Regions from separate parts of the Homo sapiens genome. Here region 1 is linked to region 2. Evidence: fine-mapped expression QTL. A gene starts in region 2. The other region holds a variant in brackets. All regions are shown on one strand. Distances are from middle to middle.

The links. PIP is the estimated chance that this variant, and not a neighbour inherited with it, causes the effect.
Region 1: its variant is fine-mapped to the expression of DPY19L3-DT in whole blood (INTERVAL, PIP 0.95).

The regions. Positions count from the first base shown.
Region 1 is chr19:32,459,072-32,464,453 of GRCh38, reverse strand. It overlaps DPY19L3 (dpy-19 like C-mannosyltransferase 3), which reads right to left. Exons shown (of 19, transcript NM_001172774.2): 13 at 966-1,088; 14 at 474-585. Among named protein-coding and RNA genes, the nearest start is that of DPY19L3, 56 kb to the right of the region's middle. The variant T/C (reference allele first, on the strand shown) is at 2,712.
Region 2 is chr19:32,402,351-32,407,732 of GRCh38, reverse strand. It overlaps DPY19L3-DT (DPY19L3 divergent transcript), which reads left to right and starts at 2,194. Exons shown (of 3, transcript NR_046201.1): 1 at 2,194-2,742. It overlaps DPY19L3 (dpy-19 like C-mannosyltransferase 3), which reads right to left and starts at 1,963. Exons shown (of 19, transcript NM_001172774.2): 1 at 1,824-1,963. RefSeq lists silencers at 1,582-2,331, 2,362-2,411.

The sequences.
Region 1 (5,382 bases), 57 kb before region 2:
TAACTGAGTCGATACTAGGATTCTAATCATTTGTAAGATATCTGCAGCTTCTACTATATTGCCACCTAGTGAATTTATGGAGTAGAACAATTCAAAACTGCATTTATAGGCTACTGAAAAATTGTCATACATATATAAATAATTATCTTTATGAAAATACATTATAATAACAACAGTTATAATTCCGGACAAGGGGATTATTGGTAATTTTAATTCCCCTTTTGTGCTTTTTTTTGTATTTCCAAATTCTGTATAATGAACATATCTAACTTATAGTCTGAGAAAAAAGTAATTTTTTAAAATAAAATTATTTTAAAATAATTCCCTATAAAATCTTAATATATCAATTATGTATTTTCAGCTTCAATTTCAGTATCCATTTTATCTCACAGCTACTGAAAAACAAAAAAAGAAGTGGTATGAAAGAAATACTGCAAGTCATAAAAGGAGATGGAAAAAGGGATGACACTGACCCTCTTTGGGTTATAAAGATGGACTGACTTCAGAAGTAACTCCCATATTTCAGGGCTACATAGGCCGAATGATGCGAACACACACATGTGTGACGTCCAGAGGTACTTCATTCTGCAAGAACAGACACAGGCGCAAGTCAGAAGTACTAGTTGTATATAAACCTGGATTCTGAGACACCTATAAAGGCAGCTTTACAGTCTATGACGGCAAAATCTTACTTAAAACTATGCAGATGCCATTTGCCGAAGGGTTCGTTGTTTAACTCCACTGCCTTTTCAAGACTATGCTTTGAGTAAAACATAGAGGCGTGTTTGTAATTAATTGTAAAAACTGATGTTGAGTATTTTATACTGAGAGAAGATAGGATATAAGGATGATTTTATGGGAACCATGATCATTAATGAAGATGATTGTCACTTTCCAAATTATATTGCTAAGTAACATCAAGAGTGATCAAATAAAAAGTAAACAAACAGGTAAGACAAAAATACCTCATTGTACTCAATGCCAAGAATCCAAACAGAATGGTATGTATTAAGTTGTAGGCAGTTTCTGGTTTCAGGTCAACTGTGCCTTTTTCCATTTTACCCACGGATTGTTGATTTGTAGAATCACTGAGTAAAACAGCAACATACAAAATTTAAGCTGGAAACATAATTTTAGTTAGATCTTTGTAAAAGAAGAAGATACAAGAAATGTATGCCTTTATGTATTCAGAAATTGATTATTTCCATAAGATGAAATGAATTCGCATTGATCAATTTTGAATTTATGAGGCTAAAGTGTAACAATATAAATGCATTAATAATGAGAAAAACTGAAATTTCACAGCAGCTTTGAAGTAAAAATTTAAAGTGCTTCAATTCTTTAAATTAAAAGAGAATGCAAAAAAAAAAACTCAAATTTTTTGGAATTGCTGAAATTGAAAGAGATTTTTAAAAGATGTTTTACCAGTTATTATGAGTATTTTTCAAATTTTTACAAATAAGCAAAAGCAAAACACACATCCATTAACTTGGAATTCAGTTCCTTTATGACCCCTCAAAAATCACATTTTTAACCTACCAATACCTCCTGATATCCAAAAGATGACTTTTACCAAATACGGCTACATTAAAATTATTACACCCAATAAAAGTAACAATAATTCCTTAACATCATCTAATACCTAGTTCATGTTCTATTTTCCCTGTTTGCATCAATTGCTTTTTTCAGGTTTCTCTGAATCAGGATCTAAGAACTGCATGTTGCATTTCACTAATATATATCTTTAAATATCTTTTGATCTATAAAAGTATCTCCTTTTTTTAAAAAACAGGCCATTTGTTTGTGGAAGAATAGAGAACATATGTCCTGAAGCTGTTCCCGTCTCCCAGGTGTGGCTCACAGTGGTGGTTATACGTTTCATGCTTCTTGTAAACTTGTAATTAGATCTAGAGGTTTATCAGACACAAGTTCATTTTTTTGGCAAGAACACTTCACGGGGTTATGATGCACAGTAGTCCCCTCTTATCGGTGGATTCACTTTCAGTGGTTTGTTATTGAGGAAACTGCTGTCCGAAAATATTAAATTGAAAATTCCAGAAATAAACCATTCATAGTTTTGAATTACATGCTATTCTGTGTTGCATGATGAAATCTCTCCATCCCTGTCTGTCCCACCTGAGACTCAGATCATCATCCCTTGGTCCTGTGTTTCCACGCTGTATAGTCTACCCACCTACCCGAGACAGACAAGCAGATACATTCAGCTACTAAACTACTAATAAAGTAAGATACATTTAAATGTCCCTGTATTGTTTGTGTTCAAACAGCCCTTATCTTACATAACTAAGGCCCCAAAGTGCAAGAGAAGTGATGCTGGCATGTTGCTATAATTGTTGTATTTTATTATTATTGTTATTCTCTTACCATGATTAATTTATAAATTAAACTTTATCACAGGGATATATGTATAGGAAAAAAACATAGTATAGAAAGGGTGTGAAACCATCCGAGGTTTCAGGCATCCACTGAGGGACTTGAAACATATTTCCACAGAAAACAGGACGGCTCTATTCCACATCACATTACACCGGGAAGCACACACTGCCTGGCTGTCTCCACTTCAGTGATGTTAAGACTGATCAGTGACTTTAGATGTTGCACAATTTGTTGTCGAGGGGAAAAGAAAACAACAGTAAAGGCTACTAGTTAAAGATGAAACTTTCATGAAGGTCTACTGATCCCTTCATACA[T/C]ACCCAATAGAACTGGGCACATACGATGCTTCTCTATGTAACTAGAGACTTTTTTTATTTCCCAGAAATCCTTTTTTTCCTACCATAAATACATACGAAAATTAAAAGGATACTCTAAGGCAGTTCTCACCATTGGTAATTCACAATTGGAATCTTTACTTAAAAGTAAATATTACAACCCAAACACTGGTTTCCATATTGGTACAAAAAGGATACTCCAAATAAGAATATCCATCAACAGGGCAAGGTGTGAAAAGTAAATAAAAATAAAACAGACAAGGGGAGTATCTGCTCTTATCCTCTCTAGATACCTAAGAGAAGTCTGCAGTACCTCCCCCATAGCCCAGCCAAGCTGGAAGGCTCTGATTAATTCCATGAACACAGAACACCATGCCCCTTTCAGATGTACCCCTCACACTAATGCAGATGTCTACATAAAAGTCATAGTATCTGGCAGGGTGCAGTGGCTCATGCCTGTCATCCCAACACTTTGGGAGGCTGAGGCAGGGAACACCATGCCCCTTTCAGATGTACCCCTCACACTAATGCAGATGTCTACATAAAAGTCATAGTATCTGGCAGGGTGCAGTGGCTCATGCCTGTCATCCCAACATTTTGGGAGGCTGAGGCAGGCAGATCACTTGAGGTCAGGAGTTCAACACCAGCCTGGCCAACATGGTGAAACCCTGTTTCTACTAAAAATACAAAAATTAGCTAGGGGTGGTTGTGCATGCCTGTAATCCCAGCTACTTAGGAGGCTGAGGCAGGAGAATTGCCTGAACCCGGAAGGCAGAGGTTGCAGTGAGCCGAGATTGCACCACTGCACTCCAGCCCAGGCAAGAGCGAGATGCATTTCAAAACAAAACAAAACAAAACAAAACAAAACAAAACAAAACAAGTCATAGTATCATCCTTCCTAGTACTAAAAAGGTAGAAATACTTTAAATACTTGGCACTGACAAAAGGCCCTTATTTAAAAGTTAATTCACATTTAGACAGTCACGTGCCACATAACATTTTGGCCAACAACAGATCGCACATACCACAGTGGATTCGTAAGATTATAATGGAGCTGAAAAATTCCTATTGCCTAGTGACATCATAGCCATTATAAGGTCATAGCACAATCACTTTGTTTTTTAAATAGATTTACTGTAGCCTAAGTGCACAGTGTTTATAAAGTCTACAATAGTGTATGGTAACATCCTAGGCCTTCACATTCACTCACAGGCTCACACAGAAAAACTTCCAGTCCTGCAAGCTCCATTTATGAAAACTGCCCTATATAGGTATACAATGTTTAATCTTTTATTACAGTATTTTTTAAAAATAGAGATAGGGTCTCACTCTGTTACCCAGGGTAGAGTGCAATGGTGCAATTATAGTTCACTGAAACCTCAAACGCCTGGGCTCAAGTGATCCTCCCGCCTTAGCCTCCCGACTTGTTAGCACTACAGGTTTGCACCATCGTGCCTGGCTAATTTTTCTTTTTCTTTTTTTTTTCCGTAGAGATGCGGTCTTGCTATGTTGCCCAGGCTGGTCTAGAACTCCTAGCCTTAAGCAATCCTTCTCAACCTCCCAAAGCACTGGGATTACAGGCCCACCATACCTGGCCTTTATATTTTTACTGTACCTATTCTATGTTTAGATATATTTAGTTACACAAATACTTACCATTGTGTTACAACTGCCTACAGTATTAAACATAGTAACTTGCTGTCCAGGTTTGCAGCCTAGATGCAGTAGGTTATACCACATAACCTAGGTGTGTAGTAGGCCATACTATCTATGTTTGTGTAAGTATACTGTATGATATTCGCACAATGATAAAATCGCCTAATATGCATTTCTCAGAACATATCCCCCTTGTTAAGTGACATGACTGGACTATGATTCTTTAATTACTTTCATGTAGTGCTTTTCCTCTAATAAAGTCCTAATATCCCTATCTGGCAGATGAAGATGCTCTAAAATCTTTTATCTATGATCATATACCCAATCAGCCTCCAGAGATGGCTCATAGATTCACACAGAGCATGGCAGACATTTTCAGGAAGATACTGCAGGCCCACTGAACTTCCTGCTTTGTATGCAGTCCAGAGTCCTGTTGACACTTGCTATGTCTGGAATGATATTAAATCACACTGTCCAGAATAATTTCCATCTATTTTCACAGGGCTAAATTTTATCTTGGGTTAGGTATGAAAAAGAACACTTCTCAAGGATAGTAAAATAGTTTATGTTCAATGAAATATTTTCATGGTTCAATGTTGTTTCATTCTTAATGATCATAAAACCTCTCAACTGCTCTGGACTCATTTTAATGACAGCTCTCTCGTGGCTGTGAATCACAGTTCACCAGCACATTAATTGGCAAGGTAACTACAGAAAAAGGGCTTCCTCGTGAGCTTCATTAAGTTTTCACAAATGACAGCAGCTTCAACTTCTTACACTTAATTTTCTTTCAGTTTAACACGAAGAGTCAATGCAAACCCCCCCAGCAGCTTGATGGGTAGATATTCTTACAAGTTTTTAAAAAGCCTTCATACTCCTGATTTTTTTCTTTCAGTAGATTGGTAGATATACTTAGTTTTTTAAAATTGGCAGTTATTACTCAAAACTTTTAGTAGATACTAATAATTATGGTCCACTCCAACATTATGAGCCCTGA
Region 2 (5,382 bases):
CAATCATATTTATTCATGAAGCATGTGCTCTACAGCAGGCCCTGCCAGGAGTCAGGAATACAGGTAAGCAACACAAACGAGCCACTGCTTTTCTTCCAGAACATCTTGGGACATTCCAGTTCCGGCTGATCTTCTCCCTCCCTGAGCCATAGCAGTTACCACGCAATGCGTCACGTAACTACACAGTTGTATATTATTTTCTACTTCCATAGGCGGTAGTAGGTCTTCAGTACCTCCCACAGAAGTGGCCACGTGGGAGATACTCCATAGTAAATGTGTTGACAACCGGATTTTGAAGAATTAAAATATTGTTTTGTCTCAGGTACCTGAATTTTAACACCAGTGTTCTATAAAACAATTCACACTGGCAGCTTCAGGAATACGCCTCAGTGGTGATGACTGCGGGGGTGTGCCAATCAGGGCAGCTGCTATCCCAGGGAGCGTCGGTGGGAGTAATGGGTGGGGGGGAGCAGGAGCCTGGTTTGGCAGCAGCAAGTGGGAGGCGGGGGAGTGGTGGCAGTGAGTAAGCGGGTTCCAGTCCTCCAGAACATCTTGCTTCACTCCTCTGAATAATGAACAGCCTCTTACTAATTATTTCTTAAATGTGACTAGTAGCCTGACATGATTGTTTCCACAGTTTATTAATTCCTAAGGGTAACTTGCTCTACAGAACAAACCAACTAACATTATACAATTCATGTATTCATTCATACCAAAAAAAAAAAAAAAAGCAGGAAGCCAGATTTAAGTACTGTGCTTTCAAGCACTGGAAATGGAGAATCTGGAACAGAGAGGGAGAAGAGGAGTGTTTAACAAAGTCCTACAGCCACAGATGGGCTTATCCCCCATGTGACCTCATCCTAGAGTCCTCCCTAAGTGTGAGAGGACTTTTTTAAACAATTCATATATTCTAATATGTTAAGGCAGAAAACCAACACATATTTAAGTACCAATTATGTGTCAGGCACTGCAACAGTCCCATGAACTAAGAAAAAAAGTTCCTCCATCAGATCAAAAGGAATGCCATTGTAAACAACTGAAAAGGGACCAGAAGCGATTCTTTATTAATAAGGACGACTAGCGCTAGCCGGGCGAGGCGGCTCATGTAATCCCAGCGCTTTGGGAGGTTGAGGCAGGAGGATGACTTCAGACCATGAGTTTGAGACCAGCCTGGGGAACAGAGCGAGACCCTATCTATACAATAAAATAGCCAGGCTCGGTGGTGCATGCCTGTGGTCCCAGCTACTCCAGAGGCTGAGGTGGGAGAATCGCTTGAGCCCAAGAGTTCGAGGTTGCAGTGAGCCGTGATAACGCCACTGCACTCCAGCCTGGGCGAGACAGCGAGACCCCTGTCTCTAAAAAATAAAAATAAAAAAGCCTAGCGCTCTAGTGAGCATCCCCTGGACGAGGCAGGCACCGGGTCCGCTTACCTACGCGCCACGCCCCTGCACACCTGGCGTCCCCATCAGGTAGGTCTCCAAGGACAGGGGCAGCCGGGAAGTTCAGGCACGCGCCCCAGCTCTCCCAAGACCGCGAGCGGCCGCCGGGGTCGCAGCCCAGGCCCTGCCTCGCCGCACGGCCGACGAGCAGAAGCCGCTCCGCAAACTTGGTCCTTCCGGAGCCCAGCCCGGCCCGCGTCCCGGCAGACACTCCCGCGCTCCGCCCCTCCCGACGCCCCGACGCCGCGGCCGCGCCCCCCGACTGCGCCACGCGGCGGGGAGGGGCGGCCCCAGGGGCTCGGGGCTGTAGCCGAGGGTTCCGCCGGCGCCCGCCCGCCCTCTCGGTAGACCCTCGCCCGCGCGTCCCGGCGCGCCGCCACAGACCTGCGGCCTCAGCCGTCCTCACGCGCGGCTCCGGGAGGGGAAGGAGGCCGACGGGGCTAGGCGGGAACGGGGCCGCGCCACGGGCCGCAGCGCGCCGCGGGTACAAGGAGGGCAGAACCGCCGCGGAGCTTTGTGGAAATGAGGGGCTGGGGGGCGTCAACAGCCCCGGGGAGGGGGCGCGCCGGAGAGGCCGGGCGGCTGCCCCCGCGCCCATAGGCCCCGGGAGCTGTTCGTCAACACTAGGCCCCGCCTCCTCCCGCGGTTCCCCGCCTCGTCTCGTGCTGCGCTGGCCGGAAGGAAGCGGCACACTTCCGCTTGCCTGGTCCGCATTGAGTCCGGTCTGTTCCGGAGACTCTGAGCGCGGCCGCGGAGCTGCAGTGGCGGGGAGTGGGGTGCGGATCTTGTGTTTGCGCACGCAGTCGCCGGCCACCTCAGGCCGGAGCTAGAGATACGGCTCGGGATAGGAGGGCCCGGCGGCTCTGAGGCAGGTTCGCCTCGAGCCGCACGGCCCGGAGCAGCGGCTCCGCGGTGGTCCCCGGGGCTTGAGAGGGGTGCGGGCCTGGGAGCCCCTGAGGGCCTGATTTACGGAACTCCCCCTCCTTCCTCCTTTCTGCCGTTCCCTGCTCTGTGGCGGATGCGCAGGGATCAGTAGGGACGGCAGCAGTAGGGCCACTCGGGCCTGCCCCGCTTCCCGCATTGCCCGGTTTGGCGCGCCGCCTCCGGGCCTTGGCAAAGCCCCAGCGCCCGATTGTCACTGACCAGTGCTTGGAAGTCCTTTACCGACTGCCCGTCAGCGTCCCGCGGAGAGGATTTTGCGTCTCCAAAGACGCCCCTCTTCCGAAAACAGGCTCCTCTGTGTTCTCAGTCGGGTATATTTTTCTGTCTCCAAACTAGATTGGCAGCCGTTTTTTGAGAGCAGGTACTGACTGTGCTTTATTTCTAGATACTTTTCTTAGTCACACCACGGAAAACACTAGGTGGAACCTTTTTTAAAATTATTTTTTACAGGTGAGGCTCTCAGTCTGTCGCCCAGGCTGGAGTGCAGTGGTGCTATCACGGCTCACTGCAACCTCGGCCTCCTGGGCGCAAGCGATCCTCCCGCCTCAGCCTCCGGAGTAGCTGGGACCACAGGCTCGCACTACTATGCCCAGCTAATTTTTAAATTTTTCGTAGAGATGGGGGTCTTGCTTTGTCGTCCAGGCTGGAGTGCAGTGGTGTGATCGTAGCTCACTGCAACCTTAGTCCCCTGTGCCCAAGTGACCCTGCTTCCTCAGCCTCCTGAGTAGCTGAGATTCATTTTAATTTTTATAGTGATGGGGTCTCGTTGTGTTGACCAGTCTGGTCTAAAACTCCTGAGTTCAAGCAGGCCTCCTGCCTCAGCTTCTCAAAATGTTGGGATTACAGGCTTTAGCCACTGCAGCGGGCCCATCAAACGTTGTATTTGTCAGTACATAATTTACATGTTAATTGATTTTTGTTAAAGGGATGGCCATCTGGGACCTCCACCCGTGAAAAGGCGGCTCATTGGTCTGACTCCAACACTAAATTACGCCATCCAGGAAGCCTTTCCTAGTCACCTCTGTTGGAGATCGTCCTCCTTTGTGTGTCGGTTGTTAGTAAAGAGCACACGTTCTGTGGAAAGATGTTGAGGTATCTGCTGGATGGCTTTGATAGAAACAAATGTCAGCTGTTTTTTCAGATGGCATTTGTCTTGTTTCAGCCTGGTTGTTGGTAGCTTTTCTGTCGCCTGGCTTGAGGGCAAGGACTGTATGTTTATTTTTCACGTTAAGATGCCTTTATGTGCATGTGTCTGTTTCATGAATACATAGGTGAATTGAGTTCCCCTTAAATAGGATTTCCCTCTTATTTTATAGGTTTTTTTTTTTCTCTCAAGTTGTTTCACTCTGGGGGAAATGTGACCATTGTGAAATATCATCGCTTAGTTAAAAAGAAAGTAGAATTCAGCAGTAGCTGCTTTTTTTAATACTATGAAAAGACATTCCTAAGCAAGATGAAGCTTTGAGACTTTTCCTAAGTAGGACCTACTGCTGAGAGTAAGTCTTGGGGAGAATAAGCCAATTAAGAATGAGTCTTTGGTTCTGATAAAGTAACCATGGAGGTGATGGATAATGAGTGTAGGTCCTTGCTCACACTTCTGGCCATATGAGCCCGGAGCCAGGGAGGTACTATAAAAGGAATGGGCTCCTGTAATGGACTGTGACTGCAGTGGTGGTATATAGCAAGACTTCCGGTTTGCAGTAGGTTTAGAAGCCTAAATAGTCTCCCTGGTTGTCTCTGCCAGGGCCACAAATAGTTGTGCTGTGCATCTCAAAAGTGTGGTCTGGGGATCTGCAGCGTCACTGTCACCATCACTTGGGAGGTTGTTAAGAAATGCATGTTATCAGGCCCTACCCCACGCCTACTCAATTTAGAATCTGTAGGGCTAGGGGACCACTAATCTTTAAGAAGTTGATATGGTTAGGCTTTATGTCCACACCCAAATCTCATCTTGAATTGTAATTCCCATAATCCCCACCTTTCAAGGGAGAGACCAGGTGGAGGTAATTGAATTATGGAGGCAGCTTCCCCCATGCTGTTCTCATGATAGTGAGTTCTCACAAGATGTGATGGTTTTATAAGGGGATCTTGCCTCTTCGCTCAGCACTTCTTCCTGCCTCCTTGTGAGGAAAGTGCCTTGCTTCCCCCTTTGCCTTCTGCCATGTTTGTAAGTTTTCTGAGGCTTCCCCAGCCATGCTGAACTGTGAGTCAATTAAACTTCTTTCCTTTATAAATTACCCAGTCTTGGGCATTCTTTGTAGCAGTATCCTTTATAGCAGTATGTATAGCTGTATGGACTAGTACAGAAGTTTTCCAGATAATTCTGTGCTCGGAAAAGTTTGGGAACCACAGCAGAACCTTGTTACTCAACATGTGGTCTGTGGGCTGTGCAGCATGGGCATCACCTGGGGTCTTCTGAGAAAAGCCAGGTCTCAGGTCCTACCCAAGACCTGTGTAGCCAAAATCTGCATTTTAATATGACCCCCAGGTCATTTATGTGTACATCACACTTTGAGAAGCACTGCACCAGAAATCTTTTAACACTGTTCATTACATCCATCCCATGGAAGTATCTTGTCTTGGGATCCCGAGGGTGTGAGTTCTTCCGTCTTACTGGCTTTTTCCTGTCTGATACATGATGTCCATTTTAAAAATTTTATTTATTTTAACTTTTTGAGGTAGAGTCTAACTTTGTCACCCAGGCTGGTGTGCAGTGGGGTGATTTCGGCTCACTGCAACCTCCGTCTCCCGGATTGAAACGATTCTCCTGTCTCAGCCTCCTGAGTAGCTGGCATCACGTGCTGGCCACCACGCCCGGTTAATTTTTGTATGTTTAGTAGAGACAGAGCTTCACCATGTTGGCCAGGCTGGTCTCAAACTTCTGATCTCAAGTCATCCACCTGCCTTGGCCTCCCAAAGTGCTGGGATTACAGGTGTCCTCCACTGCGCCCAGCCCAGTGTTCATTTTTCAATTGTTTGACTTAGTATAAACACTCTCCAT